Linked DNA regions of Homo sapiens. The protein of the gene in region 3 interacts with the protein of the main gene of each other region in a pairwise test. Each region holds a gene or a part of one and is shown on either strand. Other genes may lie near its edges.

What was found.
Region 1: the proteins of SEC22B (region 3) and TMEM229B interact in binary tests that used the Homo sapiens proteins (3 or more experiments, as listed by UniProt).
Region 2: the proteins of SEC22B (region 3) and MGST2 interact in binary tests that used the Homo sapiens proteins (3 or more experiments, as listed by UniProt).

The regions. Positions count from the first base shown.
Region 1 is NC_000014.9:67,475,020-67,478,771, forward strand, and holds part of TMEM229B (transmembrane protein 229B), read right to left. Parts: intron 1-3,752.
Region 2 is NC_000004.12:139,668,817-139,672,568, reverse strand, and holds part of MGST2 (microsomal glutathione S-transferase 2), read right to left. Parts: intron 1-3,752. UniProt on the Homo sapiens protein: Catalyzes several different glutathione-dependent reactions. Catalyzes the glutathione-dependent reduction of lipid hydroperoxides, such as 5-HPETE.
Region 3 is NC_000001.11:120,155,884-120,159,635, forward strand, and holds part of SEC22B (vesicle-trafficking protein SEC22b), read right to left. Parts: intron 1,310-3,752; coding exon 1,155-1,309; 3' UTR 1-1,154. UniProt on the Homo sapiens protein: SNARE involved in targeting and fusion of ER-derived transport vesicles with the Golgi complex as well as Golgi-derived retrograde transport vesicles with the ER.

The DNA.
Region 1 (3,752 bases), on a different chromosome or scaffold from region 3:
ATTCTCCTGTCTCAGACTCCTGAGTAGCTGGGACTACAGGCACACACCATCATGCCCGGCTAATTTTTGAATTTTAGTAGAGACGAGGTTTCACCATGTTGCCCAAGCTGGTCACAAGCCCCTGAGCTCAGGTGATCCGCCCGCCTTGGCCTCCCAAAGTGCTAGGATTACAGGCGTGAGCCACTGTGCCCAGCCAGAATTTCCTTCCTTTTAAAGGCGGAATCATATTCCATTGTATATATCACCATATTTTGTTTATCCATTCATCCATTGATGGACACCTGGGTTGCTTCTACCTTTTGGCTACTCAAAATAAGGCTGCTATGAACACGGGTGTACAAAGGTCTGTCTGAGTCCCTGCTCTCAACTCTTTCAAGTACATATGCAGAAGTGGAAATACTGGATCATATGGTAATTCTATGGTTAACTTTCTGAGGAACCACTGTGCTGTTTTCCACAGTGGCCACACCATTTTACATTCCCCATCAGCAATGTACAAGGGTTCCAATTTCTCCACATCCACCCCAAACACTTGTTATTTTCTGTTTTGTTTTTATAATGGCCATCCTAATGGGTGTGAGGTGGTTCTCTCATTGTGGTCACATTTGTCTTTGCTCCATTAAATGGGGTTTTGGTGTTTGGTTTCAGTGCTGAGGGGAAACCAATGGATTGACACAGGAAAGAGTCCTCCCCAGTCCTTCTGGCTCCTTTCCCCTCCCCTCTTTTAAACCCCACCAGTCTTCAACGCCCGGCTCCCATGCTGCTTCTCTCTACTTTCTCCTCACCCTCCACCAGCGACTGTCTGCACCACTTACCTGGCCCATTATCAGGTGCCACCCCAATGGCTTTTTGAGGTATGTGCTCTCATGATCCAACTAGCATGTGAACTCCTTGAGGATAGTGACTGTTGCACAGGCCAGTGCTTTGTGGCCTTGACGCAGGCCCGTCCTGGGCAGGCCCTCTCTAAATGACATGTCCTGTTCATGTGGAGGGAGGTGTGGGACTGCATCAAGAATGGGAAGGTAGGGCTTGAGAACATAAATCCCAGCTCTGCCAGCTGCTAATGGCTTCACATCTCTGTCGATCCCCTCTCCAAGGTGGGAGAAAAGACAGAGGTTAAGGAAATGGCATCTGTAGTATGCACACCTGTCTGGGAATTCCAGCCTCACATTTCAGCTGAAGCAGGCCTGGTCACATTAATACCTACCCAGCCTTGTGCATTGCTCTGTGGTCTTCCAAGCACTTCGTTCGCATTTTGTCATGGTTCTTACATAATTAAAATTCAGGCTGGGCGCAGTGGCTCACACCTGTAATCCCAGAACTGTGAGAGGCTGAGGCGGGTGGATCACCTGAGGTCAGGAGTTTGAGAACAACCTGGCCGACATGGTGAAACCCTGTCTCTACTAAAAATACAAAAATTAGCTGGGTGTGGTGGCATGCACCTGTAGTCTCAGCTACTTGGGAGGCTGAGGCAGAAAAATTGCTTGAACCCAGGAGGCGGAGGTTGCAGTGAGCCAAGATCATGCCACTGCACTCCAGCCTGGGCAACAGAGCAAGACTTCCTCTCCAAAAAATATATTTATAAATAAAATAAAAAAGATTCATGTGAAGGTCAGAAAATTTTACTCCCATTTTTTTGCAGTGAGACAGAGCTCAGAGAGGGGACATTATTTACCCCATATCCCAGGGCCAGTAAATGGAAGAGCTGAGATTAGAACCAATATCTCTTGCTTTCTACTGCAGAACTCATCCCCTGCACATGACTGCCCATCTCTTAGACATACGTACCAAATGTCTCTCCCCTGCTCAAAAATGCTCGATAGTGGCTGGGCACAGTGGCTCACGCCTGTAATCCCAGCACTTTGGGAGGCGGAGATGGGCAGATCACCTGAGGTCAGGAGTTCAAGACCAGCCTGACCAAAATGATGAAACCCTGTCTCTACTAAAAATACAAAAAAACAATGGATGGGTAGGTATTAATGTGACCAGGCCTGCTTCAGCTGAAATGTGGTGGCATGCGCCTATAATCCCAGCTACTTAGGAGGCTGAGACAGGAGAACCGCTTGAACCTGGGAGGTGGAGGTTGCAGTGAGTCGCGATCGCACCATTGCACTCCAGCCTGGACAACAAGAGCGAAACTCCATCTCAAAAAAAAAAAAAAAATGTTCGATATCTCCTTATTTCCTAATGAAACACAACAGCATCCTTGGCCTGCCATTCAAGATTCTTCATGACCTTGCCCCGATTGACATCTTCAGCCTTTTCCTCACAATCCAGCTCTTCCTGTCTTTCATCTCCATGCCTTTGCAGGTCCTATTCATTCTGTTAGGCGTGCCTTTCTCCTCTCACTTCCATGAGTATAAACCAGCTTGCAGGTTACCTTCAGAACAAAATCTCTTTCATTCCCCCAGGTCCCAAGGCTTCTCTTCCTCTTCTGAATTTCTACAGCACTTACTCTGTCTCACTCCCTTTGCTACAGGTTATTTTCAATATTATATTGAGAATTTCTGTCCCCGGCCAGACCTCTTTCCTGTGTGCTACACCTATAGCTCCTGCCCTTCCCTAGACAGCTCCCCCTAATGTCCCACAGGCATCCCAAACTCCTTTCCTAAATCAAACCCATGGGCAGGTGTGGTGGCTTATGCCTGTAATCCTAGCACTTTGGGAGGCAGAGGCAGAAGGATCGCTCGAGCCCAGAACTCTTGAATTCAAGACTAGCCTAGACAATGCAGTGAGACTCTGTCTCTAAAAAATAAATAAATAAAATCAAACCCATTATCTTTTCCCCAAAACCTGTTTCTCTCCTAAGACCCCCACCCCAATTAATGGCACCACCATGCACCCAGTTAGAACCAGCGGTCTCAAAGTCTGTCTGGCTTCCTCTGCCACATCCCCACCCTAACATGAGTTCCTGAGAGTGAGGGCCTTGCCTGCCTGGTTCAGCATAGTATTCCCAGTGCCTGGCACAAAGCCCAGCACATAGTAAGCATTCAAGAGAAGAATAAAGACATTTCTTAGTTAGCAATCGCCATATAACAAATCATCTCAAAAACCCTGGCCTAAAACAACTACCGTCTACTATTACAGCTCACATGTCTGTGGTTGGCAGACGGCTGGGGCAGCGTAGCTCCACTCCACCTGTCTCTCATCCTCCTCCGGGGCCCAGTGGACTTGCCTGGGCATATTCTTCTCATGGCAAGGGCAGAGGCACAAAGCTGAGCAAGGCTAGCTGTACAAGTGTGGTTCAAGACCCTGGCTAAGCCATGCCCACCATCATCCCACTGGCCAAGGGAAAGCCACCAAGTCAGCTACTAACTCCCACCCTTACCACCTCTTAAATATCTTTGGGATCCATCCCCTCCTCTTCATTACTCTTCTCATTGCTGCCACTGCTCTGGTTCACGCCCTCATCATGTCTCACCTGGATGACTCCAAAGGTCTCCCAGCTTTGCCTTCTTCCTTCTAATTCACTCATCACAGGATGAAAGAGTGTGTAGAAAAAACGCAACCTTTCTAAAATGCAAATCCGATGTTTCTCACCACTTGAAGCCCATGAGTGGATCTTCAACATCTACAGAGTAAATAAAGCTCAAACCCCTGGGGACGGCTGGCAAAGCCCTTCACAACTCGTCCCTGCCTCCAATCCTGTCCTCCAGATCTCTACCTTGCTGTTTTTGCTACCTGGGCCCCACCCAGGGCCGGTGAACCCTCCTTTAAGACCCAGCTCCTCCTCTGTGAGGACTTTCCTAAGC
Region 2 (3,752 bases), on a different chromosome or scaffold from region 3:
TGCTTGGGATTGGAGTTTTCTCATTCATACTGCAGCCTGAGAGAGCAGAGTGAGGAGAAGGAATGTACAGATGGGCCCTGACTGTCTCCAACCCTGGGCTCCATCCCTCCAGGGCAGCATCAATCTGGAAAGGCCAATGACTCATGGGCTCAGCTAAAGGGATTTGTCCATTGAGGGGGAAATGAGGACTTGGCCACTCTGCACCTGCTATTACCATTGCTTCTAACATGCTTCACAGCCTTGCAGAAAATACTTGGCAAGTCTTCTTGTTTCCACCTATAAAATGGAAATAATGAAAGGTATGTGCTCCTAGACTTATGAATTAGTAATGCACAGGAGCCTAGAGCTTCAAAATGAGGCTGGGAGTAAGCAAGCCTTAAAAGTGCTATCTTTTCTTACGTTAATTGCACCCAATGGGCATCTGTTTGTGACACTAGCAAGTGTGAGGAATGAGCTTCAGTAAATGGAAGAGGTACTGAGATATCCCACCTACTCCCAGTCCAGCCCCAAGAAAGAGGATTCAGCTGGGCTCACCTCCAGCCCCAAGGGATAGAAGCCCTTCTGTTCTCTCAGGTGAGGGGCCTCAGAGAGACCATGGCTATTTTTGGAATAATATGATGAGAGTGGGGCCAGGTGCGGTAGTTCGTGCCTGTAATCCCAGCACTTTGGGAGGTTGAGGCGGGTGGATCACTTGAGGTCAGGTGATCAAGACCAGCCTGGCCCACACGGTGAAACCCCATCTCTACTAAAAATACAAAAATTAGCCAGGTGCAGTGTCGTGTGCCTGTAGTCCCAGATACTCAGGAGGCTGAGCCGGGAGAATCACTTGAACCTGGGAGGCAGAGGTTGCAGTGAGCCGAGATCACACCACTGCACTCCAGCCTGGGCCACAGAGTGAGACTCCCTCTCAAAAAAACAAAAAGAACAACAACAAAAATTAGCCGGGCATGGTGGCGCACCTGTAGTCCCAGCTACTCGGGAGGCTGAGGCAGGAGAATTGCTTGACCTTGGGAGGCAGAGGCTGCAGTTGAGCTGAGATCACACCACTGCACTCCAGCCCGGGCGACAGAGCAGTAGGTCTGAAAATATATATACGTATATATGATGAATATATGATGACAGTGGGGTGCTATTTCACCTCCTTTTCTGTAGAGTTTCAACTTTATTTCCCTTATGAGTTGATTAAAACCTCTAGATAATAATCTCCTTTTGCTTTGCCTGTCTTTCCTCTTTCCCTAGCTTTCTCCAGAGATACACATGTGCTGAGGAGAAACCAAAAATGAAATCCTAACCCCCAAACAACTGAACAGACCCACTCTTGGCCGAGGGAACCCCAGAGAGACCTGAAAAACTGAATTCCCTGCCGTGAGGGGAAGGGAGGTAGGACACACCTGGTTGTGCCCCCTCCCTTTTGGAGTTTAGGCACAACTGCCCAGGATTAAGGTTAAAATGGGGATCATAAGACTAACAAAGCCGGCTGCAGCAAGAAGACATCAAATTGTAGACAAGACCTAAGGCCTTACAAGGCAAGGGTTAAGTCACGCCCTACAAACCATCAAATCTCATTAGGCCAGTTCTTTTAAATTAACCCAGTATGTGGCTTACTTTCCAACTGACTCTGGTATAGCATCACATGACCTCTTTATCTTTTTTTTTTTTTTTTTGAGATAGGGTCTCACTCTCACCCAGTCTGGAGTGCAGTGGCATGATCTCGGCTCACTGCAACCCATGGACTCAAGCAATTCTCACACCTCAGCCTCCCAAGTGGCTGGGATTACAGGTGAGTGCCACAACACTCAGCTAATTTTTTGTATTTTTAATAGAGACAGCATTTCATCATGTTGCCCAGGCTGGTCTTGAACTCCTGGGCTTAAGTGATCTACCCACCTTGGTCACCCAAAGTGCTTGATTAAAGGCATGAACCACCACACCTGGCCACCCCTTCTCTTAATGTAAGCATTTCTTTGTGCTGAATTCAAGTCTTTAAACAAAGCTTTACTCCTTTAACAACTGCAAATCTGAGAATCTCTGAGTCCACTTATAATCTGTAAGCCCCCTGGCTTTAAGATATCCCACCTTTTGGGGCCGAACCAATAGATACCTTCCATGTATTGATTTATGTCTTTGCCTATAATTCCTGCCTCCTTAAAATGTATAAAACCAAACTGTAACCCAATTGCCTTGGGACCACCCACTGAAGGCTTCTTGGGTTTGTGTTTTCTCCGAGCCATGGTCACTCATATTGGCTCAGAATAAACCTCTTTAAAAGATTTCACAGAGTTTGGTATTTCTGTTAACCGCCCCCCCCCCGCCCCCCACCGAAGGAAATCAGAATATTACACCTCAAAATATGACTGAACTAAAGAAGCTGCCTCAAGGTCTTTGTGACCTCTCCACTGCCTCCTGTCTCAACCTGTGGTCTCTACCAAGGCACAGGATGCAGCTGGGCAGTCCTCTGAAACTCCCTTATCTACCTAGAAACCAGACCCCCTAAGACAAACACAATTGCCTGCCGTCTCCTCCCTCAGACCTCATTATCTCATGTGGAAAAGAAGACCGAGGAATGCACACACCTGGACGAACTTTCCCACCAGATTAAGCCTACCCCTCTGGCCAATCAAATTCCAGAGAATCATTGACAAGTTACTTTGTCTCCCAGTCCATTCATTCTCCCTAATAATTGTTTACTACCACTCAAAAGAATTGTCTGCATTCCCCATTTCCTCCCTCCCCTGTGAAGAATGGTATACAAACTGCTGTACCCCTTTGGATTATTGGGCAACCATTCTCTCATGCTGTGCATATTAAAATAAATTGTCACAGCCTTTCTCCTGTTAATCTGCCTTTTGTCAGTTGACGTTCAGTGAACCTTCAGAGGGTGAAGGGGAAGCTTTCTCTGCCCCTTACCCCCTGTGATGCCCACCCAGCCACAGCTGGGTACCTTCACCCTGTCTCTACCTCTCCATGCAGCAGAAACTTCTCTCTTCGAAGAAGGACCTTAGGATGGGAACTGACAGTGCTGAGCGCCTACATGGGGCCAGGAACTATGGTGGGATTTCCTCCCCAGCGTCCCATTAAACCCTCTTTGATGGTAACATTGAAGGGCAGTGTATCCTGAACGGGGACACCCAGCTGGGAAGTGGCTAGACCAACAGATACAGCTCTGTCTGTCTTCAAAACCTAAGCTGCTTCAACCATGGCACATGGTGTCCCGACTCCATGAACATCAGACTTGCAAAAGGAGCAAATTCTGGTTCCTAATGCCAGCTAAACAGTTGTGTCTTCCTCTCTCTGTCTCCCTCTTACACACTCTCTCTCTCCTTTGTAAACCAAAAATAAAATTCTAAGCCCCCCAACCATCTAAATGGAGTCCTCCTCTCAGCCAAGGGCATTCCAAAGTTAACCTAAAAAACGAGTTCAGGCCATGATGGGGAAAAGGTGTCAGATGTGCCTCATTATATCCTCCGCCCTTTGGAATTCAGGCATAACTGACCAGCATTAACATTGAAACAGACCTTAATGTTAGTCCAAACTACACCATTTTGTAAGCCCCCTGCCATTTCACAGGCCTTTGTCAAAGTGAAACATTCCATGGGGGTTCGGGCCCTGAGAAATCCTGCCTAGCCACCTGACCACAAGACACAGGAACATCTTTATCATACCCTGCCAAGCAAAGACCCAACTGAAGAAATATCCCTATCAAATCCTGACAGAGCCCAAGGAATATCCCTGGCCAAACCACCTGAACATAA
Region 3 (3,752 bases):
CTCCAGAACATTCTCAGAGAATTTACACGAACTAAAACAGGAATGAAGTGCTCTCAGAGACTTTTTCTCAGGTAAATGTATTTAGTAGTTTGAGTAGTTGATCTGCAAAAACTTTAACTTTAATTAACTACATAGATGAATATTTTTTATTTTGAAATTTGAGAATGTCCTAAGAGGATGTCTACAGGATATGAAACTACTGGGTGCAGGAAAATTTTTTAAATGTTAGCAAATTGTGGCAAGAGGAAAACAAACAGTGGAGAAAACTGTGGTAGAGAAAGTAAAGAAGGGGCAGGAGAAAGCTGTAATTATAACCTGGGCCTGCCTTTGTTCTCATGAAGCCAGGGGCCTCTCCATATCCTATACTTGCTCTTACGCTAATAACAAACCAAATGCTGCAAAATAAAAGTAATAATGACCCAAACTAATTTAAGTCTTTTGTTTAAGGAGTAAATGAGAGAAACATTTTAGCTTCTTAATCAAGGAGTGCTATAATTTCAAGGCATCTTAATATAATTCACTTACCCTAAAGCAATTGTGCAATAAGCAAATTATAAAAGGAAAACAACAAAGGTTAACTTTCTACAGGGGCCAATAGACAAGATCTGTGGAGCACAGCAATTAACCTTCACATACTGGAGTCTTGTTTAAAAGGCCATCAAAAACTCAGATTACTGAAAATCACAAATGTCACCAACAAAAGGAATGTTGATTAGAGTCAAAAAAAAAAAAAAAAAAAAAAACACCTTCCCAAAGGACTGCCTTCTTTGAAGGAATTTCAGAATGTTGCTAGCACAGGTTGACTAAGTTAAATCTCATTGATGGCTCCATCAGAGAATGAGAATGCCCCAGCCAGTGCTGTTTTTAAAATGCACTGGGAGGGAAAAAACGAAATTAACAATCTACTATTCCCTAATATATATGGCTTGGCACCCAGAGAAAGCCTCTGCCCCCGAAAGAGACTTTCTACATAGGGTTAAGCTTCATTAAATGAGGTGCAACCTTTCATTTTCAGGGCATCTCTTTTCTTGCAAGGTCTTTAGAGGCAGAAGTTCCACTTGGATTCTAATACACATCTCTGTGAGCTCAGTTTCCTGAAAATATACACCTACTGGGTTCTAGGTTCTCCCTTACCAGTGACTGTATTCATTATTTCACAGCCACCAGAATCGGACATACACTATTAACATGATGAAAAATACAGCTACTGCTGCAAGTTTGGCATAAGTGGAACGCATGTTCAAGTACTTCGCATCCTGGCGGTATTTCTTGGACAGACTGGACAAATTGTTAGCCTTTGAATCCAATGCTGTCAAAGAGGAAAAAAGGAAAACATTAATTAGTCCCTGGAAGTATTTTACCGAAAGTATTAAGGCAAACCAAAATGAGCAGCACTGCAACAACCATGAATCTTAAATCATCATTTTTATTTTAAGGCTAACATTGCATATACTAATTAACTGATGATGCTGATCAGATGATGTCTGAATTTTTGAGGCTATATAGTAAGGTGGTTAGAAGTGCAGGTTCTGGCCTCAGACTCTTTGGTTCAGATATCACCTGTACAAGTTATGTGACATTGGTCAAGTCATGTAACCTATTTAAAACCTAGTTTCTTCATCTATAATTGGGGATAATAACAGTAACTATGTCATAAAGTTGTATGTACATGAGATTGCCTGTAAAGTGAGCAACAATGCCTGCACATGATAAATTATAATAATTATTACATGTTAATAATTATTATCTTCATAATCTTCTAATGGTCTGAATCATATTCTCTTATATTTTGAAAAACGATAATGATAACCCATGTAAAACAAACTCAGATAACCAGAAAATTCAATTAACCAAACACAGTCTTAAGCTATACTTCAATGATGACTGCTAACATTTCTAAGATTCTCCACATAGTAGAGACTACTATGAAGTTAAAGCTATCAGGATTTATATTTCAATAGACATAGGAAAGTTGTAACTAAAATACAATAAGTACTACAAAAAAAAACGCAAGTAAATTAAGCTTTTTAGTATTTTCTGGCAAGTTTTTTCACCCCCAAGGACATTTGTAATGTTGTTATCTTCTTATAACAGTTAACTAAACACTTAGAGAAATAGCCAGATAGACACAAGCTAGACCATATTAAAATATAAGGCATATTTTAATAATAAACACAAACTCTCCATTTGACATAATAAATTCTGATCAAACTTTTCACTTCTTGAAATTTCAGAAAAAACTATTTTGCAATCCGGTTGTTTCTTCCTTAAAGAATGCTTTTGGAATATTTGGAGTTGCTTAATAGAGACTGGTTTTGATTGGGAAACATGGCGTTACTTAATAACACAGGCATGACAGCCACGTCTGAATTAGCAACTGATCACATGAGTAAGAAAAACATCTAGTCACGGAAGAAGAGTCAGGGACTGAGAAACAACCATGACAATGCACAGGGCATCTTTTTACAGAGCCTACAAGAATATACACTTCACTGGACAGGGATTTTAAATTATTGTGTTTGCTGCTATATCCTGAATGCCCAGAACAGGGCCTGGTATATAGTTAGTGCTCAATAAACATTTGCTAAATGAATCTAAATCTGCTGAGAATAACTCAGCAGAGGAACAATTATTAGACCCTATGAAACAAGTCATAGTTGAGAGAATTTATATATGAACGTTTTGAAATACAGGATAACATAAAGACAAAGCTATTGCTTGGAGAAGTCATTTAACAAATATTTATGTGACAGGCACCATGTGAAGTGCTGAGGATACAACAGTGATCAAAATATACATGATCCCTGCCTTTAAGGAATTTAGAGTCTTGCATGAGTGATACAAGAAAAATTCCTGTGCTAGTCTACTTTATCCCATATAGGAATTGCAAGTCTGTATGACAAAACCTTACACACTCACTCACTCAAAATTTGGTATTTAAAGAGTGTGAAGGTAAATGAATAACTGCTCACTACTCAAAAAAAGGTTAAAGTTTGTAGTTCATAATAAAAGAAAACTCACTTACTAATGAATATATAGCATGGCTGAATTCAAAAATACTTATTAAGGAACCTATTTGTGACCATTTCTGTGGGGGATATATAAGGAGTATGTGAAACAGATATAAAATACATAAGCACTATCTTTAAAGAGCTTACATGTCCACATTAAACACTTAGGTAATATTTAAATATCAGGTAAATATACATATACTTTTAACCTAATTTTACCTAATTACCTACACTTTTAAAATTATATAAAGGGCTGGGTGTTGTGGCTCATGCCTGTAATCCCAGCACTTTGGGAAGCTGAAGTGAGTGGATTGCTTGAGCCCTGGAGTTTGTGACCAGCCGGAACAACATGGCAAAACCCCATCTCTACTAAGAAAATACAAAAATTAGCCAGGCGTGGTGGCACATGCCTGTAGCCCCAGGTACTCAGGAGGATAAGGTGGGAAGATCGCTTGAACCCAGGAGATGGTGGTTGCAGTGAGCCAAGATCGTGCCATTGCACTCCAGCCTGGGCAACAGAACAAGACTCTGTCTCAAAAAAATATACGAAATTATATAAAAATATTTAATTATCCAAATATGTTTGCCTACTTTAATATAAATATATGAAATATATACTTATGTTATATGGAAATATATTTAATATATATTAAATATATATTTAATATGGTAAGAGGTATTTAATAAATATATTTAAGGTAAATTAGGTAAACACACATACATGTAATATGTGCTAAAACC